Linked DNA regions of Homo sapiens: region 2 is linked to region 1. The links come from fine-mapping of genetic effects on gene expression. A gene starts in region 1. The other region holds a variant in brackets. All regions are shown on one strand. Distances are from middle to middle. Region 1 holds the start of LINC00402 (long intergenic non-protein coding RNA 402). Region 2 overlaps LINC00402 (long intergenic non-protein coding RNA 402).

What was found. PIP is the estimated chance that this variant, and not a neighbour inherited with it, causes the effect.
Region 2: its variant is fine-mapped to the expression of LINC00402 in whole blood (TOPMed, PIP above 0.99).

What each region holds. Positions count from the first base shown.
Region 1 is chr13:74,226,680-74,239,111 of GRCh38, forward strand. LINC00402 (long intergenic non-protein coding RNA 402) reads left to right here and starts at 4,765. Exons shown (of 2, transcript NR_144451.1): 1 at 4,765-5,073. It also overlaps a transcript of KLF12 not described here. RefSeq lists an enhancer at 1,245-1,389 and a cis regulatory region at 1,311-1,324.
Region 2 is chr13:74,250,329-74,266,732 of GRCh38, forward strand. It overlaps LINC00402 (long intergenic non-protein coding RNA 402), which reads left to right. Exons shown (of 2, transcript NR_144451.1): 2 at 6,605-9,648. It also overlaps a transcript of KLF12 not described here. Among named protein-coding and RNA genes, the nearest start is that of LINC00402, 27 kb to the left of the region's middle. The variant T/G (reference allele first, on the strand shown) is at 9,408.

The sequences.
Region 1 (12,432 bases):
CTCTTTCCATAGTGTATCAAAATGAGTCTGCACATACTTTTGCAATTAAGCCAGAAGATTGCTCTATGATAATTATTAACGCTATGTTTCTCCAGCTAAACTGGGAAAGGTACCCTAACTTTCATTCCTCAACATTCTGCCCTGATACCATACGTTACATATAGCAGACTCCCTCTCCTTCTAGACTAGTAGGGATTGAGAAACCATAGTAGTCATTTGTTTGTTTCCCAGTGTACCCACAGTCCCAGTGAAAGAGTCTCCTAACAGATTTCTTTGCCTCCAGTCTTCCCCACTCCAAGGTTTTCTGCATACTGCTCAGACTCTTTGTCTTAATTAAGCACTGGTTTCGTCATGTTTCTTCACTGTTTTGTTAACAAATCCTTTAAGCCACTTCCCATTAATATTATTTTTCTTTGACTCTTTTATTTCCAATACACCCTACATGGGTAGCATCACTTGCCTTTCCTCAAACATGGCTCTCTTCATCGCCTGTGACAGTGCTTTTGTTCCTTCTACCCAGAATATTCTTCCTATCTGTCTATTCTTGTCACAATCCTCTTAATCTCAAGGATGGCTCAAATATCAGCAATCTGGACTCCTGCAGAGTGTTGTACCCCTGTCACAGGATTAAACCACATTTTGCCTTCAATGAGTGTGTTTGTGGTTAATATCACATAAACTCTTGGAGAAAAGGCCTGTCTTGTTCATTTTTGTATCACCCCAAATTGAATCATGCAGCCTCTTACAGAGTGGTTGTGCAATAATAGTAGATAAATTTTCTACGTCTCTTCATATTTTTTTCCTCTTTAATATTGTAAAGTCACATATAATAACTTATTTTCAGTGGTGTATTCATTTTGATTCCTTGGCCAAAGTTTTTTCTATTTTTAGTCAAAATGGCTCCTTGCTTAAAGGTTTAACTCTTTTACCTCCATACATAGGCTTAGCAAACAATACATAAGAATCCCCGTGGTTATAGAATCAGCTCTGCACAAACCTAGGCTTCTCATTCTAAAGTGGAAAATATTAGGAGAAAGTGGGCAATTCATGGAAACATAGAGTTTATTGTGATAACAAAAACCTAGTTTTATATTTAAGAAAATAATTCCTTTAGAAGTTCCCGATTTCTCTGGCAAAAAGAACAAATAAAAACATAGTCCAACCAAATGAGGTTTTGGGTTGATATATCAGGATAACAGATAATATAATTTTTTAAGAAATGTTTTCAATTTTCTAGTTTTTCTCTTTGGTAGAAGAATGTTTAGTCAACTTTCGTGGACCTTAGACGAGCCAAAGATCAGTATGTTTAAGTTAATCAGTAACTTGAAATGCCTTTTTCTTGTGTTTGGGAGAAAGAAAAGGAGACAGATTGCTGTGGAAATATAAGATGTTATTTCTGCGAAAATACTTGTATCTTTACCAATTTTAAATGTCGGTTTTCTTCTCCCAAAGTTTATTTTACCTGTCTACTTGGATGAGCTTCAGAACTATCTATGTCTGAGGAATATTATCTTCCTCTTCTACATTTTGCTGTAGAGCAAACTTTCTGCACCGTATGTTAAAAAATCTGAAACTATATTATATAGTAGAAACAATTCAAGACTTAACTTGTAAAAAAGTCATGAATTAAAGTGGAATGAAAATAATATATTTTGAAAAAGCAAACCAATGAGAGCTGGACATGTTAGGTTTTAAAATAATAGGTTCTATATCTTTAATCATTGAAATAATATTTATACACTATTTTCCTATAAAATATTACATATTCATAAGATTTTAGAATAGAATGGAATTTTGAGGTCGCCTAGACCAGTTGCATCACTTTGTGAGTAAGGAAATATTAAGCTTAGAAATGTTAAGTCCCCTTTTCAAGGTCCCACAGAAATCAGTAGCAGAGCTTAAATGAGAATTTAACTTGTCTGATTCCAAATCAGTGGCTCTTTTTACCCATACTGTGATATCTATATTGTCTGAATTCAAAACTTGGATGTATATTATGACAATCTGATGTGACTTAAATGGAAACGATGGGACAGAATACTTGAAATTGAAACTGGACCCCCAAGTCAGGACACTGGATAAAAAGAAGTTTATTTGTGTCACAGTTTATTTATGTCCCCTAATGTATTTTTCTTTAAAAAAAAAGTAAAGATTAAATGCTAGTGTTTTATCAATTTGCATGGTCTTCATTAAATTGAAAAAAAAAACACACCAGAAAAATGAAGGAAATCAAACACTGCTGCTCCAAGCTTAGGGAATAATGTTAATACCATTGGAATCTACATCACCAAATACTAAGAACCCTCAGTACATGAAGCCAATCAAAGTTAAATACAGTGGATCTTTGTGTTCTATTAATTTATATGCTGAAACTTGTAATGGTGCTGACTACCTTAAACAGTAAGACAAACAAGGAAACATGCCCTTTTAGAGTTGTGAGTTGGGATAGTACTGGATATTGAGCAAATATAATTATGTTGCCATTTCTCTGGCTTTTTGATTCTTGGAGCAAATCATCAAAGTTATGTATATGTCACTTTTGTGTGAAATTATAAGGGGGATAGTCGTTAGGAATGAAAGCTTTGAACCAAGATAAAAATACATAATAAGCAATGTGTCCCTAAATATTTTGAAGAATACATTCCTAAAGAGTTAAATCCTGGCCAAAAACAAGTCCTTTGACTCCTGTATTTATTATTCGTGGTTTTGAACATGCCAGGTTCACGAGTTCTACCTGCACTTGGCAACAATTCTGTACTTTCCTCAGCCCCATGGTGTGCTCAGCTGCTTGTAAAAAGTAAGGAAGCTCTGGTGACGGTGATGCATGGTAACAACAGTTTTTATTCCTGTCAGACTTGAAAGGGTGAGAATTTGGAAAAGGTAAGAGTTTATGAGATAGTCTTAATTAAAGAAAACTATTCACTTATACCAACACTTGGAAAGTTATCTAAAATACTAACTACTTCTTTTAGGTTGGAAAAATTAGAAGGTAACTGTTCCTTTCCATTTTTTCATAGGTACTGTGGGGCAGCCCAGGAGCCACTAACAACCAAGGCCTGCACCGGAATAAGCTACAAGGATTGGTTTGGAAGGCCAAAAACCTCAGCTGACCCTAAGTCAGTTCTGCTTCTTATACAGACTATTTCAGTCCCGTCTCCCCAGTGTTACCAATGTTGTGTTTCCACCTAATCCTAACTCCTTATCTTCTAAAATGTGACATGTTTCCTTGGCTCTTCAAAGCAAAATGGAAAGAGGGAGAGATTCAAATCCTAATGCTGTCACTTAACTGTGTGAAGATGGGTAGATGAGGTACATTACTTAGTTTCTCTGAGCTGTACTTTTCTCATTTTTAGAATGAGATGATAACACATGATATGATTTGGCTGTGTCCCCACCCAAATCTCATCTTAAATTGTAGTTCCCATAATCCCCATGTGTGTTGGGAGGGACCTGGTCGGAGGTAATTGAATCATGGGGGCAGTTCCCCTGATGCTATTCTTGTGATAGTAAGTTCTCACGAGATCATATGGTTTTATAAGGAGCTTCCCCCTTCACTTGACTTTCATTCTTCTCCTTCCTGCTGCCACGTGAAGAAGGACATGATTGTAAGTTTCCTGAGGCCTCCCCAGCCCTGCAGAACTGTGAGTCAGTTAAACCTCTTTCCTTTACAAACTACCCAGTCTTGGGCAGTTCTTTATAGCAGCGTGAGAATGGACTAATACACGTATCTTTAAGTTTTCTGTGGTGAAGATTAAGCATGGCAGACACAGAGTATGTACCCAATAAATAATAGGTATAATTGTGCTCATCCACACTCTCATCAATTACCTGGCAAAAATTCTATTCAAGGGCTAGGACTCTGCTACTCCACTCCAATCCTCTTCAGTTCCACTATGTTTACCTCAGTTCCCCAACCAAATGGGTAACAGCTGGTTTTGCATGAAAGTGAGCAACTATGGAGGCAGAGGATTGTCTCCTCACGTACTCGGGATGAATTCTACCCCGAGGCACCACACCCTTGTTGGGCCAACTGCACAGAATTCTGTGCATGCACGACTATCAAGTGTTTATCTATTGCCCCAGAAGCAAGCTTCTCTAAACCTGGTGCTTGTTTCTCTCCTATGCTTCCATCTCCTGTTGACCTCCCTTCCAATTCTTTCCAATGTGCCTCATGGAATTTTCATTCTGTTATGAGTAACCCTCTGTTGATCTCCTAGTTTTCATTAAACGTTGTCTGTGCTTCAAGAACACTGAATATCTTTTTGCTGTGTTAAATCCAAAGCTTAGTCATTGGTCCTCATCTTAGTTGAATCCTCAGTACTTTCGCTACTACCACCCTTGTACAAGCTGCTACCTTTTTTTTTTTTTTGCCTGAAATGATACAGTAGTGTATAAACCAAGTATCTCTGCTTGCATCGTCATCTGCCTGTCATGTATGCTCAATGTAGTAACCACAGTGATCCTTATAAAAGTAAAGTCAGGTAAATGTCACTCCTTGGCTACTTCAGGTCAGGGACCATGTCATTTTTTTTTTTCCCTCTGTATCTCCAGGGCTTATCGCTGAAACTTAGCAGGCACTCAGTAAATATTTTGCTAAGCAGTTAAAACTAAGAGAAGAAAGAGGAGGGAGAAATATGGTAATCACTTACCACATCCTCTTTTAACCTCTTGAATATCTTACCAATGTCTTCTTTTGTTCTTACTTTCACATCATTTGATTTGATAAAACAAAACTATTATCTAGAGAGGTAAGGCAGACTTGTGAACTGGACCCGTAGAAGTTAAGTGATGTCCCTGTTTGCAGTGTCAATGAGATTGAGGGCTTGGGCTTGAACCCAACCTTCTCCCTCCAAATAGCCTGCTCTTTCTGTTATGTCATGTTTCATATACAAGTTTGGGAGCCTCCAGCCCTGACTATCCCAACATATACAACATAATGTATATGTTGTCTTTGGAAATATCTTCTGTGAAGGCCAAGCATTTAATATTACAGGAAACCTTGAAGTGGATATGGAAGCTTGGCAGCCAGCTTGGATCTTCCTAAGAGCCTCTTTCCTTCATACCATCTTCAGAGTACGTATCATTCAATAGAGACTCTCTTGCACAGGAATTATTATTATATGCTTGCAAATAGTCTCAACCAAAATCTTTAACCTGGAAATGAAGATGGGCTACTGTCTAGGAAGCCTCTGATTTTGTTATTGGTTTTTATTATCATGTTAGGTTTGTATATTAAGGAGAAAAATTGGCAGAGAGCATCTAACCTATTAAAATTAGATATTCAAAGAAATTTAGTTTTGGGGGGTCTGAATTGATAATATAACATATGGAAGTTAAAATTCTAGAAGCTATGTTTACTATATGATTTCATGGTGTAACAAGATCTGGGAGTAACATAAACTAATCTACCTTCCCTTGTAAACAATCATCTTCCTTCCAAGTCTTGCTGGCAGAGGAAGAGGTTGTGGGACAGTGTGGGAAGAAGGAGGGAGTCAGAGTTAATTTCATTATGTGCTTCCTAAAGAATGGGTTATTCAACAAAAACACTAGTAACAACAGCAACAATGAAACTCCACCTCTCTGAAGTGTATAGAAGATTAATATGATATTTAAGTACATTTTAAATAGATTTTCTATTTCCAAATTGATAACTGTGGTCATGTAAACTTTCATGATCCTTTGCGGCTGACTCTCTTGTATGTCCATTTGGCAGTCTCAGTTTCTGCTACATTAATTTGACCTTGATAATTTATTCATTCATATATGTTTGTATTATTTCTTGAACCAGATTACTATAAGAAACTGTCTTGTTCTTGTCATATCTTTTTCCATGCTCTCACACCTCTAAATAATTATCTAAACCTAAAAAAGGATAAGTACTTTTTAGAAATTTACTTTACATTCAAAGTAGAGTGTCTTATCTAGGTTTGACAGTTTTTACACTCTGAAAATTGAAACTATATCAACAAAAGTAATTTTATACACTGTCCCAAGCTTTTAAGAAAGTGATAAATATACACTGTATATGACATTGAAGTACATTTTGAATAGCTTTTCTATTTCTATCTTGATAATTATGTGGTCCCACGTAGGTCAACAACAACAAAAAAGTGTTGGGCCATCCCATGTAGGTTGACAACAACAAAAAAGTGATAGGTATACAGTGATCTTTATACCTATCAAATTTTGTTGATCTTATTTATTTATTATTATTATTATTTTCTGAGACAGAGTCTTGCTCTGTCGCCCAGGCTGGAGTGCAGTGGCGTGATCTCAGCTCACTGCAACCTCCGCCTCCTGGGTTCAAGTGATTCTCTTGCCTCAGCCTCCCGAGTAGCTGGGACTACAGGCGCGTTCCACCATGCCTGGCTAATTTTTTGTATTTTGTAGAGACAGGATTTCACCATGTTAGCCAGGATGGTCTTGATCTCCTGAACTTGTGATCTGCCTACCTTGGCCTCCCAAAGTGTTGGGATTACAAGCGTGAGCCACCGCGCCTGGCCTGATCTTATTTTATAAAGATACACTGTATACCTATAACTTTTTTGTTGTTGTCGGCCTACATGGGATGACACCAGAACTTTTTACTTTTTTGCGACTTCTTCAGGGCCCTTCTGATCATACTGATTCCATGGTCCAGCAGCCCTGACCTGCTCCATCCACTATGTGCCCTGAAATGCATACCTGTGGTGGGAAACTCCCAACAGGAGCTTATGTCACATATACGTGGCCAGAAAAACACGAGAGTGCCTCGGGACAAGTATTTCACGAGCAATGGAAAAAAGTCATTTTGTTACCAGTTCTTCCAGAAGCATATTCACCCATGCAGATTCATAATCTGTAACACTTAAATACAATTTCTTTGTTTCTAATTACACATTGTAGTTTGGAGAAGCATGATAATATTCAATTAAAAGTAACTCATGAATTGTTTGTAGAAATCCCCGAGATGACTAAATATTCTATATGAAGACAGATGAATGAAATAATTTTAATCTCAAATCTAGAATATACTTTTTAGAATTAAAGAGCAGAGGGTCTTTTATAATAAGGCAACTTGTCACCTTATGGACATCTTCAGATCATCATATGATAAGAATGTTTAATAATATTAAAAAGTGGCATTCCAATAAATAACATGGTAATATTGCGGGATACAAGCTTAATATACAAAAATCATTTGCTTTCTATATACCAGAAATGAACAATTGGAATTTGAAATAAAAAACACAATGCCATTTACATTAGCAACAACAACAAAATGACATACTTTGATATAAATCTACCAAAATATCTACAAGTTCTATATGAAGAAAACCACAACACTGATGAAAGTATCAGTATTGGCTCATTAATTGTAACCAATATACCACAGTATTGCAAGATGTTGATAATAGGAGGATAACAGGTAGGGAGGGGATAGATGGGAACTCTCAGTACTTCCTGTTCAATTTTTTGGTAAACATAAAACAGCTTAAAAAATAAAGTCTATTAAAAATAAGTGCCATCCATGGAATACATATAGAAAAATGCTGCTACATTAAATATTACCTATAGATAAAAATGCATCCCAAGACACAGTACAGCATGTTCAGATGATTCTCTGTGAAGCAGCATAACACAGTGGGTAGAATTCAAATTTTAGAATCAGAAAGACCTGGATTCAAATCTGAACTCTAACTTGCAAAAACTGTGTGAATCTAAGCAAGTGGCTTAATTTTTTTCTGAACCATATTTTCATCATCTGTAAAGCTTGGATAAGAAGGACTACCTTACTTACATGAGATTATGTTTGCAAATCACATGAAACACTGTATGACACACTGTACCTGTCCAATAACTGATAATATCCAATCTTTAATGTATAAAGCTACACTTAAAAGCTGTCCATATTTTTAAAACCAACAGAATGAAGTCAGAAATAAGAAAGGTATTGGAGCAAAGGAAAAGTCATTATGCAAGGAAGGACAAGTTATTCATTCGTTTGGCTATACATACATTTGGAGACCATTCAGTAGATTCACTTACCTACATTTTGTAGGTTTTGCCACTCTTACCTCTTATTCGGAAAAAAAAAAAGCTTCGGAGATCTCTTTCCAAATCTCTTTTGCCTGCTGAAGACCATTATATGTATCGATACCTCATATTTTGGAATTTATGGAAAGGTCTTTTTCTTTTATTTAAAATTTATAAAAAGGTATACATTTACTGTATGTAATGATAGAATCTTAGAGATAGTTCTGAAGTCCTCTTCTGAGTACTCACTCTCTATCTACCTATCTATCTATCTAACTATCTATCCTCTATGTGTATATATTTTTATCTTAAAATGTGACATAACACAGTCTGGATGCAAGAAACCAAAATGGACTCAGTGGTCACTTGCTTTCTGGTTTTTGATGAGACAGTTTCTGGGAGTGTTTGTCAACTCGTGAAGGCAGATGTATCCAGAGGTTTGAGGGTCATAGATGATGTTTGTAACCTCGTTGATGTAAGCAAAAATTGGGCTTTGACTGCCCTTGTTTGGATACTTGATATAAATTACCAAGGCATTAAATTCACGTTAACAAGTACATGCAGGTGCTATTTGTAGTAGGTGCCAGTAAGGAAACCAGAAAACATGGTTTATGTTAAATGAGATAACATGTGTCAAGAGTTTATCTAAGTTATTCTGTATAGCAAGTATTCAATCAGTGCTATAATTTATTTTCTGCACTTCCCTATGTTTATTTTAAAAGTTTACTTTTTATCACACAGCTTTATGCCATGAAGTGATTGAATATCTCAATTTCCTCATTATAATAGACAGGGGAGAAATCAAAGAAGAAGATAGTTACAAAATATCTTTGACTAAAATATGTACATCTGCTGTTGTGGATGGCCTCCCCCTCACTCTAACTATAAAAATAAAATACTACAGAAAAATGAGATAAGATCTTTATATGTTAATAGCAATTTATTTCTATTTACACTTGCTTTTTATAATTATCAAAAGCTATACTTTCATGAGGAGTATTTCTCTCCTTTGAAGTATGTAAGACATATCCAGAAAGTAGATTTAAAAAGCCATGCAAACTTATTTTCATTTCCTTAAATATTATTACCCTGGCATTTTGTTTTAAATTAAAATTCATAATAACATATATGACAGCATCTTAATGGAGGATCAGCAGTGGAATTTGGATATACACACATTTACTTTCATTCTCAGGTACCGAATTTTTATTTTTTAATTTTTTTATTTTTTTAGTTTATTTTTTTTATTTTTATTTTTTTTTATTATACTTTAAGTTTTAGGGTACATGTGCACAATGTGCAGGTTAGTTACATATGTATACATGTGCCATGCTGGTGCGCTGCACCCACTAACTCGTCATCTAGCATTAGGTATATCTCCCAATGCTGTCCCTCCCCGCTCCCCCAACCCACAACAGTCCCCAGAGTGTGACGTTCCCCTTCCTGTGTCCATGTGTTCTCATTGTTCAATTCCCACCTATGAGTGAGAATATGCGGTGTTTGGTTTTTTGTTCTTGCGATAGTTTACTGAGAATGATGATTTCCAATTTCATCCATGTCCCTACAAAGGACATGAACTCATCATTTTTTATGGCTGCATAGTATTCCATGGTGTATATGTGCCACATTTTCTTAATCCAGTCTATCATTGTTGGACATTTGGGTTGGTTCCAAGTCTTTGCTATTGTGAATAATGCCGCAATAAACATACGTGTGCATGTGTCTTTATAGCAGCATGATTTATAGTCGTTTGGGTATATACCCAGTAATGGGATGGCTGGGTCAAATGGTATTTCTAGTTCTAGATCCCTGAGGAATCGCCACACTGACTTCCACAATGGTTGAACTAGTTTACAGTCCCACCAACAGTGTAAAAGTGTTCCTATTTCTCCACATCCTCTCCAGCACCTGTTGTTTCCTGACTTTTTAATGATTGCCATTCTAACTGGTGTGAGATGGTATCTCATTGTGGTTTTGATTTGCATGTCTCTGATGGCCAGTGATGGTGAGCATTTTTTCATGTGTTTTTTGGCTGCATAAATGTCTTCTTTTGAGAAGTGTCTATTCATGTCCTTCGCCCACTTTTTGATGGGGTTGTTTTTTTCTTGTAAATTTGTTTGAGTTCATTGTAGATTCTGGATATTAGCCCTTTGTCAGATGAGTAGGTTGTGAAAATTTTCTCCCATTTTGTAGGTTGCCTGTTCACTCTGATGGTAGTTTCTTTTGCTGTGCAGAAGCTCTTTAGTTTAATTAGATCCCATTTGTCAATTTTGTCTTTTGTTGCCATTGCTTTTGGTGTTTTAGACATGAAGTCCTTGCCCATGCCTATGTCCTGAATGGTAATGCCTAGGTTTTCTTCTAGGATTTTTATGGTTTTAGGTCTAACGTTTAAGTCTTTAATCCATCTTGAATTGATTTTTGTATAAGGTGTAAGGAAGGGATCCAGTTTCAGCTTTCTACATATGGCTAGCCAGTTTTCCCAGCACCATTTATTAAATAGGGAATCCTTTCCCCATTGCTTGTTTTTCTGAGGTTTGTCAAAGATCAGATAGTTGTAGATATGCGGCGTTATTTCTGAGGGCTCTGTTCTGTTCCATTGATCTATATCTCTGTTTTGGTACAAGTACCATGCTGTTTTGGTTACCGTAGCCTTGTAGTATAGTTTGAAGTCAGGTAGTGTGATGCCTCCAGCTTTGTTCTTTTGGCTCAGGATTGATTTGGCGACGCGGGCTCTTTTTTGGTTCCATATGAACTTTAAAGTAGTTTTTGCCAATTCTGCGAAGAAAGTCATTGGTAGCTTGACGGGGATGGCATTGAATCTGTAAATTACCTTGGGCAGTATGGCCATTTTCATGATATTGATTCTTCCTACCCATGAGCATGGAATGTTCTTCCATTTGTTTGTATCCTCGTTTATTTCCTTGAGCAGTGGTTTGTAGTTCTCCTTGAAGAGGTACTTCACATCCCTTGTAAGTTGGATTCCTAGGTATTTTATTCTCTTTGAAGCAATTGTGAATGGGAGTTCACTCATGATTTGGCTCTCTGTTTGTCTGTTGGTGTATAAGAATGCTTGTGATTTTTGTACATTCATTTTGTATGCTGAGACTTTGCTGAAGTTGCTTATCAGCTTAAGGAGATTTTGGGCTGAGACAATGGGGTTTTCTAGATATACAATCATGTGGTCTGCAAAGAGGGACAATTTGACTTCCTCTTTTCCTAATTGAATACCCTTTATTTCCTTCTCCTGCCTGATTGCCCTGGCCAGAACTTCCAACACTATGTTGAATAGGAGTGGTGAGAGAGGGCATCCCTGCCTTGTGCCAGTTTTCAAAGGGAATGCTTCCAGTCTTTGCCCATTCAGTATGATATTGGCTGTGGGTTTGTCATAGATAGCTCTTATTATTTTGAAATATGTCCCATCAATACCTAATTTATTGAGAGTTTTTAGCATGAAGGGTTGTTGAATTTTGTCAAAAGCTTTTTCTGCATCTATTGAGATAATCATGTGGTTTTTGTCTTTGGCTCTGTTTATATGCTGGATTACATTTATTGATTTGTGTATATTGAACCAGCCTTGCATCCCAGGGATGAAGCCCACTTGATCATGGTGGATAAGCTTTTTGATGTGCTGCTGGATTCGTTTTGCCAGTATTTTATTGAGGATTTTTGCATCAATGTTCATCAAGGATATTGGTCTAAAATTCTCTTTTTTGGTTGTGTCTCTGCCTGGCTTTGGTATCAGCATGATGCTGGCCTCATCAAATGAGTTAGGGAGGATTCCCTCTTTTTCTATTGATTGGAATAGTTTCAGAAGGAATGGTACCAGTTCCTCCTTGTACCTCTGGTAGAATTCGGCTGTGAATCCATCTGGTCCTGGACTCTTTTTGGTTGGTAAGCTATCGATTATTGCCACAATTTCAGATCCTGTTATTGGTCTATTCAGAGATTCAACTTCTTCCTGGTTTAGTCTTGGGAGAGTGTATGTGTCCAGGAATTTATCCATTTCTTCTAGATTTTCTAGTTTATTTGCATAGAGGTGTTTGTAGTATTCTCTGATGGTAGTTTGTATTTCTGTGGGATCAGTGGTGATATCCCCTTTATCATTTTTTATTGCGTCTACTTGATTCTTCTCTCTTTTTTTCTTTATTAGTCTTGCTAGCGGTCTGTCAATTTTGTTGATCCTTTCAAAAAACCAGCTCCTGGATTCATTAATTTTTTGAAGGGTTTTTTGTGTCTCTATTTCCTTCAGTTCTGCTCTGATTTTAGTTATTTCTTGCCTTCTGCTAGCTTTTGAATGTGTTTGCTCTTGCTTTTCTAGTTCTTTTACTTGTGATGTTAGGGTGTCAATTTTGGATCTTTCCTGCTTTCTCTTGTGGGCATTTAGTGCTATAAATTTCCCTCTACACACTGCTTTGA
Region 2 (16,404 bases), 26 kb after region 1:
AAATTATTCCACAGATATCTTGAAATCATGCAAAAGGTCTTTGAGGTCATCAGCAGGTAGGATGAGGACAAGAATTAACACCAGGTGAAAGGAGAAATGTGTGGAGAAAGGAACCCTGGAGAACTTAGGAGGAAAGGATGCTGAAGAAGAAGGGTATCAAAAAGAAAAAGGTTAGAACCATGAGACTATTGGAGGGAATGCTGGAGGCAGCCTTAGGGAAGGGTAGGGGCAGAGAAGGCCAGAGCTAGGCTTCTTGGTGAGGAAGCTTAACCCCGTTCCTGGTAAGAGAGTCCAGCAATTCTGTGCTACATCTGTCAGGCACTCATTATATCGAACACGCCAATGACTGATGGTCTTATTAAATCAAACTTCAAAAAAAGATCAAGGCTGTTTAGGAAGATACCTAAGGAAAAAAAGGATCAAGGCTGCTATAAAAATGAACTCAGCATTGCATAGTTTTATATTTTTTTCTAACCATTACATGCATTAGTCATCACCTCGAAAAAGCAGCAAAAAGATAGATGTGCCAAAAGTGGTAGAGAAAACATGCCAACATTCAAAGAATAATTAATGAAAAGTGTTGCAGTTTTAACACAACAAATTAAAGTCAGTCCCAGTCTTCCCTAGTTCTTCTCAAGGGAGCCCAGGATCTCCATCCCCTGGATACAGCCATGCCTGCTGCCTGTCCTGACATTGCCCCAGGCTACAAGTTTAATGAAAGCTTCATTACCATAGTTCTGAGTCTGGTGTCTGTCATATCTGAGTAAATCACCCAGCTATGAATCTCGTGAACTCATTGTACTGAGTAATCTTCTTGGTAATCTCTTTTTTTGTTTTTTTTGAGATGGAGTCTAATTCTATCACCCAGGCTGGAGTGCAGTGGTGTTATCTGAGCTCACTGCAACCTCTGCCTCCTGGGTTCAAGCGATTCTCCTGCCCCAGCCTCTCAAGTAGCTGGGATTACAAGCATGCATCCTGCTAATTTTTTTTTTCTTTTGGTAGATAAAATATTTTACCATGTTGGGCAGGCTGGTCTTGAACTCCTGACCTCAAGTGATCCGCCCACCTTGGCCTCCCAAAGGGCTGGGATTACAGGCATGAGCCACCACACCCAGCAAATCTTCTGTGATTTTCTAATTTTCACTTTTATATAGAATGGGTTTTTACTTTTCAAAACTTCATTGTGGCTGGACCCCTGCATTCCACTGAGGTCTGATGTGCTAAGTTCCTGATGCACTTCCTGCTCCTTGCCACCTTACTCTCCTCCAGTATTAACATTCTCCCATCCTCCCTCATCTTCCTACCCTCCCCCACCAGGTGAGAAAGATTTGGCTCCCCAGTTGGCTGACTGGCGTTCAGAGATAGGTTCCTGATTCCCTACCATGGAGAAGTTGCTTGCAAGAGAAACCCAGCATTATAAACGAACTTTCAAAAGGGTCAGTTAGACAAGTTGGCTGTGACATGAGGGTTAATTAGGGAACTTGAAATGTAATATTCTTTCTGGCACAGAGGATTCTGTTGTCCTCCAGGCTGCATGACTTAAGACAGCAATGGACAGTTTCCAGACCCCAGTTGCAAGCGGGCAGGGTCAGAGCTTCTAATTCTGCTAGGCTGAGTCAGTTTTTGGTGCCTAGATGGGTGTGGCCAAGAACGCAGATGGCAGGTAATCATTAGGGGATGTTGGGATGGGTCTGGGACAGGCTGAACTTGACAGCTGTGGTTCTGATTCACAAGGGCAGGCACCACTTCCCCCAAGGACCGTGCAAGCCTCACCATCTTATACCATGTTGTTTTGTTGTGTGTGTTTATTTTTCTTTAGTTATCCCTTAGTTGTTAAGAAACTAGACATATAGATTATTGACCTAACGCTTGTTTACCCTAGAAAGGTTCTGGTTGCTGCGCTTCACCTTGCCAAGGACCCTTAGGTAGGGCTGCCAGCCAAGTCAGCTGACTTTACCTGCTCCTCACACATTATGACTTAGGCTGTTGTGACTGCTGCAGGGCCTGCCACAGAAATGTGGTTAACTCTTGACCCCAGGCTTTGTTACAGGTATACCTCTTTCCTGCTGTTCTCAGATGCAGCCTTATGTGCAGCTTTTGGCTAGGACCCAACAGTCATCATAAAAGACTGACCCTATCACTGTCACTAACTGCCTCTACAACCTTCAGCATATCACAGCACCCAGATTCCATGTTCCTCATTTGGAAGAGCAGGTGGAGAGGGGTTGGCCACTAAAGATAACGAAACTAAAGCTGCCATAATTCTAAGAGATTTAACCATTACTTTCTATAGGCATTGAACTCAGTGGCTCTAAATCAAATTATTTATTATCCTTAATCATGATTATATAAGGCAAATTCTGCCCTTTAAACTCTCTTAATGAAATAGAAATATTTAAAGACAACTACCAGCTTTGTTCTCTTCCTCCTTCCCATCCTCCCTTCTCTTCCCCATTCTTCCTTTTCTTCCTTCCCTTCTTCCTTTCTTTATTTCTCAATTTGAAACAAATACGTTAGAAGTTCAAGTCACCTCTTTGCAGAGACAAATTATTCCAGCAAAAAACTAGAAATATCCGGTCTAGATTATCCCTATGTATAACTTATGTATTTAAAAGCCTTGGAATCCATCTATTATCTATCTGTCATCTGTCTATCTATCTATCTATCTATCTATCTATCTATCTATCTATCTATCTGTCTGTCTATCTACCTATCTATCTATCATCTATCTATCATCTTTAAACCCTTGGAATCCATCTATTAACTGTCATCTATCCACCCATTCATCATCTGTATTTCTAGAGAAATATCTATGCTTTTAGAGTTTAATAAGATAAAGTTTTGATTAGCTATTATTTTAAAATAACGTTAATCTAAAGCAACATTTTTAAAAAGTATAGTCTTAACATTACCTATATAGAGGAACCTGAGATGTTTGCTAAAAGTACAGGAATCTGACTGCAGGCTGAGAATCACTATTACCAACAAGACTGCACACCCCTGCCCCCAACATTCTTAAGCACATCATATTCTGAGAAACCTGCATGTGAAGACTTTGAAACCACAATATATCATGCAATGTAAAGGACTATTTTGAAGTGGTAGCTAAGTGGTTGTGAGGGGTAAATATACCTCTGGGAGCCACCTCAAATCCCTTGTGGATATTAAAAGTATAAGTGAAATAAAAAGGGAATGTTATAAATAAATGAATATGTAAAAATATCTTTAAGTAGCTATGTATCAATTTATTAATTCTGATGTTGAATGCTCTGTCCTACTCATTTTTCAAAGAGATTAAAACCTCTTTCCCATTAAAACTTGCCAGCCTGTTAGAGCACATAGAGCTATCTATCTGCTAGAATAATAATACTTTTTCGAATTTACCAGTATTTTTCAAAATGTATTCCAAAGAACTCTAGTTCATGAACTATCTGTACTACCACCAAACAAACAAGCAAAGAGTGAGACACATTTGCAAAAGCCCAGCCTATATAAATTATGAAAACACTACAAATTATGTACCCAGTATGTGAGCTCCATAGTGCACATTAGCTTATTACAGATTATGAGAAGCCTTACAATATGAAACTTTTAATGTTTTTAAACCAGAATTTCTAAAACTTATTTGACCAGGGAGTCTTTTAAAAAATCATGTTTATCAATTTCTCTCTTTTCCTCTTTCTCTCCCTCAAAGCTGGTTGTGTATTTGTTTTCTATTTAATTATGTAAAGCCTTGAATTATCTTTTAATTATTGTTTAACCCTTCATGCATAATTATATGCATTCCATATATGTATATGTCATGCAGGATTGTGTGTTTTTATTTACTGAGTGGATTATTTTGTTTTTGCCTTTTAGTAGTGCTGTTGCTAAATGTCCACATAGTCTTTACTGATTGGAGTGGACTTTCTTGGTACCAATTAACTAGGATAAAACAGGCCATGAGACAGAAAATGAAAGTATGGATGGTAGGCTCTAGGTAAGCAAGAGATAACTCCATTCACCTTGGGTTTTGATATCTCTTATGCTTTTACATGATCATTGTTATAAGGATGATAACATTAATACTACTTATTGTGCAGTTATGGTCTGTGATGTGGCAAGTACTTGTTATTTCTTTTAATTCTGAGAACAACCCAATAAGGCAGGCATTATTAATGCAATTTTCAGAGGATTATAGATACTTACAGCTGAAATCTACACAGAAATATAGCAAAGCTGGGTTTTGAACTCATTTCTAACTGACCTCAAAGCCCATGATCACAACCATTCTGTCCATTGCCTGCTGAATCTAGAAATTCTCAACTGTGCTTCTAAGGTGGTAAAGTTTATAGGTAGCCTCTTCCGTGTGATGTGAGGCTCGGAGCTAGACAGGGAAGTGACTCCTTAAACAGAATAAATACATATATGGTCTAAATCACACCATCACATGCCATGGTTTGCGTGTATGTGTGTGTGTGTTTGTGTGCGTGTGTGTGTGTTTATTTCTCTTTTGTTGTTTGTCCCTTAGTTATTAATAAACCTCGCTGAAATATGCAGGCTTTACCTCAGCTGTGCTATGAATAAGTAAAGAAAAGGTGAGGTGGCCATAAATGGACCATAGAGCTCAAGAGGGAACAGTTCTTCTCACTTTGAATGGCTGCTGCTGTGATCATCAGCCAAGATTGACAGGAATTAGAAGAATGTTGGAGAAAAGATTGGTGCCTGCAAAGGTTGGCTGCCTGAGCTTTGATCAATACTCCTGTCTAATGTCTAGGATTTAGTTTTAGAAATTTAGCATTAAAAATAATATATCTTCTGTAACAGATATTTAGTAAACTAATACTTTAAGGAAGGGACCATTTTTATTATTCATTTTAAGACCCCATAATGGTTAGCATGGTAACTTGTCCCAAGTAAGTGCTCCATAAATACTGGTTAATAAGAGAGACTGAGCCTGTCTTCAAGTTAAAGAAGGAGGGTGTTGGGTACAAAGACAAACTTCACTCAGCACATTGCATGTGCCAGAGTGCATTTTTAGGATTAATGAAGAAATATAACATCATTGTTTTTGATGTATACTCATTTGCTGAGGGTATATAGCCTAGTTAAGTTTTTAGTTGCTTATCAATTAAATGACATTTTGCCTTTTATGTGGTATCATTTAACAGCAGGCTACTAATCAGAATTTCATTGAGCTTTCAATTGCATGATGTAATGAGACCTAAAATGGATATAATTTCAGGAAGTTGTTTTACCAAATTATTTTTGACCTGAGAAGGATATCCACAAAACAGTTATTTGTAGCTTCTATTATATTGAGTGGTTTCTACTTAATTAAAATTGTGTCTCTAGCCTAGAAATTATTTTCTAAGAAATGTTTTCTTGCTAAATAAGATTGTTGTATATAGGAGAACTAACTCTATCTACTGACTGCTGCTGCTTACTGAGGAGACAAATATATTTCCATAAAATTCAAATAAAATGTTTTTAGATTCCAGTCAAATGCCATCATCTAATGAGATGACTGAGATGACATCTACTACCTTAAAGAAGTCAGGAATGAGGCCGGGCACGGTGGCTCACGCCTGTAATCCCAGCACTTTGGGAGGCTGAGGTGGGTGGATCACGAGGTCAGGAGATCGAGACCATCCTGGCTAACATGATGAAACCCCGTCTCTGCTAAAAATACAAAAAATTAGCCAGGCGTGGTGGCGGGCGCCTGTAGTCCCAGCTACTTGGGAGGCTGAGGCAGGAGAATGGCGTGAACCCAGAAGGCGGAGCTTGCAGTGAGGGGAGATCGCGCCACTGCACTCCAGCCTGGGTGACAGAGTGAGACTCTGTCTCAAAAAAAAAAAAAAAAGAAGTCAGGAATGAACTGCTTCAAGGCTAAGACATACTTGGCTCACATCTCTGATATCGGCTAACACTGGAATCAGCATGGCCCAGAGGATAAAAACAATAAACAACACAAACAGAACAAAATAGAACAAAACACATAACTGAAAATAAAGACAACTGAATTCCAGTCCCAGCTCAGCCACTGTTGTGCTTTGTGGGTCTTGTTCTTGTACATTTCAAATCAAGAGGATGGAACTTGTTCATCTCATTGTTGTGAAGATGAAAAGTTGAGTAACTTGTGGATCTGGGTGGGACTGTATTAGGGACTGGTACAGTAAAACAATTAAAATGAAATGATCCACAGGAGACACTTCCATCAATAGGTAAGTTACAGTGGGTGGGATAATGAGCCCTTCAACCCACCAGCGAATCAGTAGGGTAAAGCTAGCACTTCAACACATTGGTGGTGGTGGTAGTGAGGGGGTGAGTTTATACAGCATTAAGCTTTTCTTTTATTAGTGGAAAACTCTGAGTAGAGCTTGTGTGTGTGTGTGTGTGTGTGTGTGTGTGTCTAAGATTTTCCTATCTGTTGCCACGCTGTTTTGGAAACGGCCTACTATTTGCAGACTCACTGTCATTCACTAGTCCCGATTTTAATCACTGTTTGATCTTATATTACACATGAAATGGTAGAATAATAATTAAATTTTGTGTCACTGTCCCTGAAGACATATTTTCATATATTAATTGCTGATTAATCTTCTACTTTTTTTTGTTGTTGCAGTTGTTATTCCGTGACATCTTATCTACTTAAGCAGCTAACCCATGAGGCATCCAAAACAGAGAGAAAAAACAGAGTGAACATTTTGCCTTATGGAATTGTCAAAAGTTGCGGTCGAAACACAGGCAAGATTTGGAAGAATCTGTAATGAGCCAGGGCCAGTTTTCCTAGTTATAGAGCCTAGGCTGGAGGAGGTACATGGGCTGGGGAAGGAGAGGGAATTAGAGATTGGCTGTTCCTGGAAACTCTCTGCCTGTACTCCATGGCCTGAGTCCCAGGACCTGGAAGCGGCTGAAAATCTGAGATATAGAAGAGACTGGTGCTGCCTTTCTGGGGAGGGCTTGGGAAAACAGCAAGTTCCCTGAATTTTTCCATGGCACAGGAGCAGATGAAATGTCATGATTGGTGTCCAGGCTAGTGGACTGAGTTAACTCCCGAGAGTCCCTGTACTCTCCAGCATGGCACGAGGAGAAGCAAACCATTTTCCTATGCAGCCATAGGAAAACGGTACAAACACGACACTGAAATTCAGCTGACCGCAAGAGCTTGATGGTCAGTGTGAGCCAGATGGAGCAGGAACATGTATGGATGGAAAACCCAGATCCAAAGTTCATCCCCCTCTCCCGTGGATGCTCCAGCACATTGCAAGGTTTCCCAGAAACTTAGAGGCAACCTTGGCACAAGGACATGATTTGTTGGAAATTAAGTTTTGTCACCTGGGGGACTGCGAGCTTGATACGGAAATTAATTCAGTTATATAATTATAAAAATGATGCACTTTCTACACATCTGATTTTGTGAACCCAAATTAGTTTCCACAACGCAACTGTGTTAACATTTGCCAACCTCTGGGGCAACATTGGTTGTCTTTGTTGCTTTTTTCTAGAAGTTTTCAGCTCAAACTCATCTTTCCCTTTTTTATTTTCATTTCTAAATTCTGGTGAGTGGTGTTTTGATAAGTAGATATCAGCTATTTCCTGTCTTACTTGAAAAGTCTTCTCTGTATTAAATAACAAAGGTCACTTAGATAAATATCTTCTCATTACCAGAGGGTAGGGAACTGCTTCTCCTATACATAACTTCTATTATCTTTCAATCCAGAAAAAAAAACGTGGCAGGAGGACAAGTTTTTGAATGTTATGAATCGTGATTTCTGTGTCTAAAATCTGCTCTTTTGTTAACACTAAGGGCAACTTCCTTCAAAGTGGTTCATCTTGGTCTATTACTGTGTTTGTGTGTGTGTGTGTGTGTGTGTGTGTGTGTGTGTGTGTGTGTAGTAAAACCAAAGTTTCCTATTATTTTTGAAGGTATTTGGCCCTGCTGGAAGACAGCTATGTATAAGTTGAACTTGGCAGAGAGAAAGGGAAACCAGATCTTACTCCCAGGCCTCCTGTCACCAGCTGTGTGACTTTGCTGAAGTCATTTCTTTCCCCTAAGTCTCAGTTCCAATACCTATAAAGTGAGTGTTCTGCCTGTGTGTGTTTTAGGTCTTTATTAATGTTGAAATGTCCTGACTTTATGGGTTCTCATTCACTGTGATGTGGTAACCAAAACAAGCAGAGATTAATAACCAGGACTCAATAATGTAAAACACTAAAAATTATATTTTTGCAAATTTTTGTAAACGCGGGATCATATCTCTCTCAGTGACAGTATTGGTGTGATCCATTATTGTACATTTAGTGGATAAACAGAATGTAACTAAGAAGTGTTATCTTTGTTATCAGGGGAACGTGGAGTTGGATGTGTATGATGGGGATGGGCAGTTAATTCATAGGTTAAACACTCAACGAGGGAATATCTCTTTATCGCTATCTCCAAAGACTCCCCACTCTTCCTCAATTTTCTTAGTAACTCACTGCTCAGACTTAGTTTCCCCAGAAGCAGACTATGAGACCAGGATTTGATGCAAGCAGTTTTTTTGGAGTTGATCTCAGAAAGGCTAAGAGAGTAGAGAAGTAATACAGAGAAGTGAAGAAAGCTAATAGAAGGTCCCGGTGCTCTCTCCTGAAAGAGAGCGCTGGAAGACTGAGTAGAACATGCCCCAGAGTTGTCCCCCTCTGCTGGGGCAAGAGAACTAGGGTACTGATCAGCTAATTTCCGTGCTTCACTGGTTAAGGGCATTAACCTCCCCAAACTTCTGGCCTGTGCCCCAGATAGACCAGGCATGCTTCTGTGGCCAGAGAAAGCCCGAGGATGGAGAGTCACAGATGCTTGTGGTAGGTAGCAGGTGGTGTGTATGGAAATGGGAATGGGATGCCAAGGGGATTTGGGCAGGGCACCAAGCATCTGCCGCATTACCCTAATCCAGGCAATAACACTCACAGTATCCCAGGGATTCCCCTTCTAGCCTCGAATTCCTCTTATTCTCATTTATTTTGTATTTACTTTCTAGACCATAGTTTCTCAGATAGTAAAGGTTCTACTGACTTTCCTCATCTCTCTGCAACCTCTTTCCTGCCTAGCTTCTCTTCCATGGTCAAGCCAATACACACAGAATTTTGCCTTCCATTCTTCACTCAGGTGTTTCTTCCACTTGGAATCTGTTCCTCAGTCATTTTCACTAATCCATGTCCCTCCCAGTACACAGAATTTTTCACAGAAAACATAGTTAATCCTTTAAAAATATATTTAGATTGACTTGCATGCCCCTCTTAAGGTTTTTTCTTTCCAAATGCCTTTTTTAAAACCCCAATTTAAGAATTTCTTTAGCCAATACTACAACAATGCAGTCCTTGTTCTCCACTTCTTTCCTTTTATCTACTCAATGTTATTAATCTTTTTAGTGTAAACATCAGTAACTCAA[T/G]CGAGCCTTTTCTGATCCCCATGATTAGGATGAGTTTTTGTGTTGCCTACTCCAAAAGGTCTGTCCTTTTTAATGCTCACCACACTTGAGGTTTCTGTTCACACTTCAAAGGCTGTGGGGCCCGATACCATGATTTTGCTGCACTCCTAGACCTGGCCTACTGGTACATAGTAGGCATTGATAAAAATTTGCTGGAGCATTGCATAAATAAACTATGCCATTTGGGGCTGATTAACATTTTAACGAATAATTGATTTTACTTCTTCTAAGCATTTTTCTAGTGAATTTATAAATATATTAAAGGTGGAGGCTGTTTCTTTTGTGTCCCCTCTGGAGTGCTATATACAAAGTACTTCATACAGTAGGAGCTTCAAAATGTTAGTAAACTAAATACACACACACTCACACACACACATGCACACACGGAGGTAACTGCAAAGTCTCAGAGTATGTGCTTTGGTAAGAGGTTACTTGGACCATTGGAGCATGCTGTTCTCTCTCATGTGACACATAGCAACAATTCAAATAGAGTAAATCGGGCAGGATACAATGGCTTATACCTCGAATCCCAGTACTTTGGGAGGCTGAGGCAGAAGAATCGTTTGAGGCCAGGAGTTAGAGACCAGCCTGGACAACCTAGCAAGACACTATTTCTCCAAAAAGCAGAAACATTAGCTGGGTGTGGTGGTGCACCTGTAGTCCTAGCTACTTGGGAGACTGAGGTGGGAGGATCGCCTGAGTCCAGGAGTTCGAGGTTATAGTGAGCTATGATTGCCCCACTGCACTCCAGCCTGGGTGACAGAGTGAAACACTGTTTCTAAAATAAAATAAAATAAAATAAATAAAATAAAATAAAATAAAATAAAATAAAATAAAATAAAATAAAATAAAATAGTGAATTAATTGCTGGAGAGGTACTAAGTAATAAAATTGGGCTTCAAATGGAAAAGCAATAAAAAAAATAGGTCCTGTGATTTGGAAGAGTAATGAAGGTGCTGAACATAGACACTAATTGTAAATGTGTAGGAATGCTGGGAAGAATAAAAATTTGCGGGTATGTGTGCTAATTGGTGTTAATAACAAACATACAAAGAAAAACAAATTGGGTTAAAGAATAAAAAGAAGCACAAGATTTGCAGTCATTAATTTTGAAGAAAAATGTAGGTGAGAAAAAATGAAAAAAGCAAACTAAATATTTTGAAAACAAAGAAGTTCATCAGCTTAAGGATACACTGGACTTTGGGAACTTGGAGGCAAGAGTGTGAGGGGGGTGAGGTAAAAAAGACCACACATTGGGTACGGTGCTCAGGTGATGGGTGCACCAAAATCTCAGAAATCACCACTAAAGAACTTATCCGTGTAACCAAACACCAGCTGTTCTCCGAAAAGTATTGAAATTTTAAAAAAATTTAAAAAGAGATCAATATGTATTAAAATAGCAGTGACACTTTTGAGAAGACCTAGTGGTTAACAGAATAATATCAATAATCACCCAAAGAAAACTATTCCGAAATGTGTTGTGTTTCCCTGGTATAAATATAATTAGAGAATAAGCGGAATAGAAGAAAATTATCTTCACATCTATATATTTTACCTGTTTATGGATGCAATTTCCATAATATATACGCAGAATTTTTTCTAAACAGAAGCATGAAAATAAAAAAATATTTCAAAATAAAAGTGCTTCGGTGGAAGCATTAGATGGAGTATGATAGGAAATTTCATTTTCCCATTCTATTCAAACCAAATTGGGTAAAAGCCTGCTAGCTTTTCTTGAATGTTATCTCAAAAAAAGAAAAGATAAAAAAAGTTTGTGATAAAGTAACAGGCTACATAGGCCATCTTTGAACAACATATAAAGACTGTATATAAACACATACACAACAGATATATATGATTTAGATTTTAGTGTCTTTTGACATTTTCTACAGACATTTCAAATATTATATATGTATACACAAATATTAATAAGGATACAGAAATCTAGGTGTGCCTGATTTTACATTTCTTTGGGCAGCATGGATTTGCTATGAAGCCATTTGTCTCTAAACTATCTTTCTGAAAAAATATGCACATGCAGACACAAACGTGTGTGTGGTAGTACACTGGTAAACTCTGTGCTTGCCAAATGTTCTTGTATGCTGTTAGCCAGTCAGAGCTTCATGACCAAATGAACATGCTCATCCATTGAGCAAGAACCCACCATGCTGCAAATTCTCACCTTCAGAGAGTGCTGTGCTGTGCTGTCCCGAGCTGAGTGTGCTCCTCAGTGTGTGTGGCTCACTGCACTGGGGCCTCTCTTTTTGCCATGTGTTTTGTGGTCTGGTCTACAATTTTGAAAGACTGTGGCTTCCAGAAGTGGTGTAAATAATCAACTTGCAATAAGACACAGGTAGAGTATCATGGCTGATGGTAAAATGCATGTTTAATATTGACTTGAGGTATTTTCAGAGAAATGATCAAGTAGAATTGAACAAATGAGAGGCAATTAGAAGTGTTGTTGATCTTCAACACTGTGAAAGGCATCACTCATAATTGTAGCTGTAGGAGGTTGGATCAATATTTTGTGAATGATGGCTGGAAGAACCTGTAGCCTGAGACATTATAGCTTCATGAGATTTGAAGAAAGCACAAGAGCGATTGTAAATTTTAAATGCTAAGAAAGAATAGCTGTCCCTCAGTATCTATGAGCAATTGGTTCAAGGACCTTCTCTGGATACCAAAATCTGAGGATGCTCAGGTCCCTGATATAAAATGGAGTGGTACTTGCATATAGTCTATGCCCATCCTGTTGTATACTTTAAATCATCTATAGATTACCTGTAATACCTAATGAAATGTAAATGCTATGTAAACAATATAACTGTTATGCTGTATTGTTTAGGGAGTAAGGACAAGAAAAAAAGACTGTACATGTCCACTACAAACACAATTTTTTTTGATCCACAGTTGGTTCAATCCCTGAATGTGGAACCCACAGATGTAGAGGATCAACTGTATTTCCAGAGAAGACTTGCATGATCCCGACTCAGTTAGGACCTCAGGAAGGCAATGTCTCAGAATAATAGTATATATATATATGTGTGCATATATGTACGTATATATGTATGTACACACATATATATATGTATATATCTCACAGAGTCCCTAATGTTATTGACAAATATGCATTCGTAATTTTTTACCTGGTTCTTCGTCAGTGTGCTTAATTCTCAATATTTTTAAAAGGTTGAAAATACAGCTGAAAGTAAAATCAAATTCAGTAAAAATACCAAATGTCAGCCTCAGAGCTAAATACTGTCTAACAGCTCCAAGACATAAAAAGAAAGGAATATTCAAATTGATGAACATTATTAAAGACAAGGACATTTTCATTTATAAAAGAGAGAAAGTATTTAAAGTAAGTAAGTTCTTTATACTTCTAACTAAAATGCTTCTCATGTCTAACTCTTATAGCTAAGTAAAAAATAATGTAATGCTCCTTGTACACATCTTTTTACTTATAGTAGCCTTGAGAAAAATTACACATAGGTAGTTTAACTTGCTCAAACCCATCAGAAATTAAGGGAAATTGAAGAAAACATTATTAAGGATTTTATTCACATTTAAGTTGCTATTGTATGCAGCAAGAGATTAAAGGAACCATAAGATAAAGACTCTGACTCTATGAATATATGCCCCAGTAGAAGAGCATATAGAATTGGGTTTGAGATCATTGCTTTTTAAAGTATTTGTCAGCTCACGTTTGACACTCAACCTGTTACTCTCATCCAGTAATATGGTACTAATATTTATCTGTTTATAGCCTCCTCCACACTTCTAGTGAGTTACTGAGTTTAATTTTCTCTTCTCATTCAGAGCAAGCTAATGGGAGTAAAGGATGAATAGAAGTTCCCTCTGTCACTGAGGCAGGAGAATCGCTTGAACCCAGGAGGTGGAGGTTGCAGTGAGCTGAAATCACGCCACTGCACTCCAGCCTGGCGACAGAGCGAGACTCCATCTCAAAAAGGAAAAAATAAATTCTCTCTGTCTATCCCACCACCTCAGGTCTGGTCATATGACCCTATACTCAGCTAACATGATACTCCATGGATTCTTGACCATTTAAAAATCTTGTCCTTCAGGGCTTTTACTGATTTTGGAGTATACAATAAATATCCTTCAATTATTTTGGGTGCTTTATAGCCAGGTTTGTTTTTTTTCTAGGCAGCCACAATCTTGACTAATATGAAAGTTGGTTCCAGGAGCAGATTATATACCAGATCTCAGGGAAAAGGAGGAAGTCTGGGATTGTACCTGGCATAACTGGGGTTAAAAGCAGTGAAAATGCAGTTGTGTCAGTGATCGAAGGATGACAGACTGTGGTAAGCAATGACAAAACGGTTAACTTTCCATTACTTGGAATCCAGTGCAAATTGAAGATCAGGCTTTGGGTATCAATTTGCTGATGTTGAATAACAGCTGAAAAAAACTAACTGGGTGTGTGAGGGGCTGCTGTTAGACAAACTAAGTGGCTTGGATAAAAAAAGAATGACAAGCTCAAATATTAAATTCTTGGGTCACAAACTTAAGCTTAGGGAACTTTACCTGATGATGCTAGCAGAATATTTGGACTCTTATAGCTGTAGAGATGAGGTATCCAAAAAATAAATAAAAAGGGTAGTCTTGAGTTGCCAAGTTAACACATTACTTATCCCCTCTTCAGCTTCTTTGGTGAGAGTTAAAATATTAAATGGGACAGAGTGACATTCTGAATATTAAAATGGAGATATATGGGAGGATTTGAAGGACTTGAAATAGCCACAGAATCCAAATTCTTTAAGCTTCCTTAGCCAGTTGGTGCATTCAAAATAGCTCAGGTAAAAACCCTTTTCTTTGTTGGAAGAGGCAGTCCTTCCCACTCTTAAGTCAGTTCTCTTCAGATCCTAACCCTCTTTCCCCCATTTTCATTTCAAACTGGTAACTGAATTTGGATTTCAGCATACTAATTTATGTTGTCAAACTTTGTGTAATAGTTTTATACAACAAAATAAATACACAAAATAAATATACTTAACAATTTGTATAATAAAATACCTAGGGGAGAATATGTCTTATTAAATTCCAAACATGCTCAACCAAAAAGTGAATAAATGTAGTCTTAGGTTAGTCTATTTTTTTTTCATATAGTGCAATTATCTGAATTCATAGAGAGGGCAAGCTACTTTTAATACAGGAAGCTGTATAGATTATTGATCATGCTAAAGAAAATTAAGATGCCATAAATTATTTACAATAGTACCTAGAAAGAAATAAAATGACCGAATTTATAACATGAATCTCATCTACTTCCTAACTATGTTGCCTAAGTAGACATAGATGACCATTTTTACTAAGGCCTTGAGAAATACTTATGAGGGAACTACTAGTATCTACAAAAATGTGATTGTGGCTTCTCTTGTCAGTTGGGGATATTGATGGGAGGGACTAATATTGAAATAGTCTGCCTGATTACAGTGGAGATTGGAAAGATCCTATGATTGAGAAGGGCAGGTGCAGAAGTCAGGCACTTAACCTCCAGAGGCCATTTATTCGTGCTTTCCCTAATAGAGACACATAGATATTTAACACTGATTTATTGATCATTGAGTCTATAGATCTGAGATATATGGGCAATCACAAAGTTCCTAATAAATTTGCATAAAATCCCCATGTCTCAGGATGAAGCTCACCAAAGGAAAAACAGAGTCATTACTCTATTTCTAGACCTGTGGTCGTTTTCTGGTGTAAATATATTCTGAAGAAAAGAATATAAGTAGACCTTTCAGTTGTTTTAAGATAATGGCTCCCAAATTACACATGTCTGTTATAGAAGAATGGCACTGTGGTTCAATGGTCAGAGTAGAAATGTATGATGTTCAGGTGATAGAGTCTTGACCCAAGCCCATCTCACTGTAGGCATAGTGGGACCTACAGACACATCCTCTTCTTTTTCCCTTCATTTCCTGTGTGTTCTTGGAAAAGATACTCTAGACAACTGGCTAAATACTCACATTTACTTCTTAACTCAGGAATAAGAGTTATTATGAAAGGAAAGAACAAGGATGGAAGTCCTGGATCTCACCTTCCTTACTAAAAGAAAAACCAAGAGCAGTAGGATATTCCCATAGAATCTGAGAGATTAGTGCTACCATCAATGACTGAAATGGTAGGTTGTGGTCATTTCTATCGCAGCTCCATTCAACTCTCCAATTAGTTTGATGGGGAAGACAGATGGGTCTTGGAGAATGAGTGTGGATTATCGTAAGCTTAATTAGGCGGTGCCTCCAAGTGCAGCTGCTGTTCCAGATGTTGTCTCCTCACTAACTCATATCAACAGAGCTCCTGGCAATCAGTCCAGGCTGCAGTGCAATCAACTCTACCTGGCAGCCCATTTGATCCAGCGGATCCAATGAAGCTTGAAGAGTTTGTAGCAGATTGGGATGCTTTATGGAGCTCCAGTAGTAAATTCTCAGTCAAGACCTCTAATATCATTTAAAAAATCAAAGTTATGACCTCTCCAGTAAGTAACTAGTCCTATTTTGAGAAACAACTCTTGAAATGCTACTGGACCTTGGTAGGACTAAATACCTGGCATTATGATCTGAATTTCCCATTATGAATGAGTCACAAGCTCATTCACCAAAAAATAAAGTGAGGAATCCACAGCAGTACTCCCTCAAGTGAAATGCACACATACCCATGCATCCACGTGCACATATACACACACACATATGCACAGGAATGGTTCCAAGCCAATCTTAAATGCACATGTTAAATTGCACAAGGAGGATTCTCATCTTCCTGGTATCATCCTGCTACGCTGCTGTTCTCTCTCAACCCCAGTGGCCTCATGGAAGGATTCCTGTGACTAATTAGTAGCCTGAGATGCCAAATAAATCAATAAATGGATAGATACGTAGATAGATAGATAGCTCTTGGTTTACAGATGCTTCTTCCTGATTTCCTGGGGCCAGCA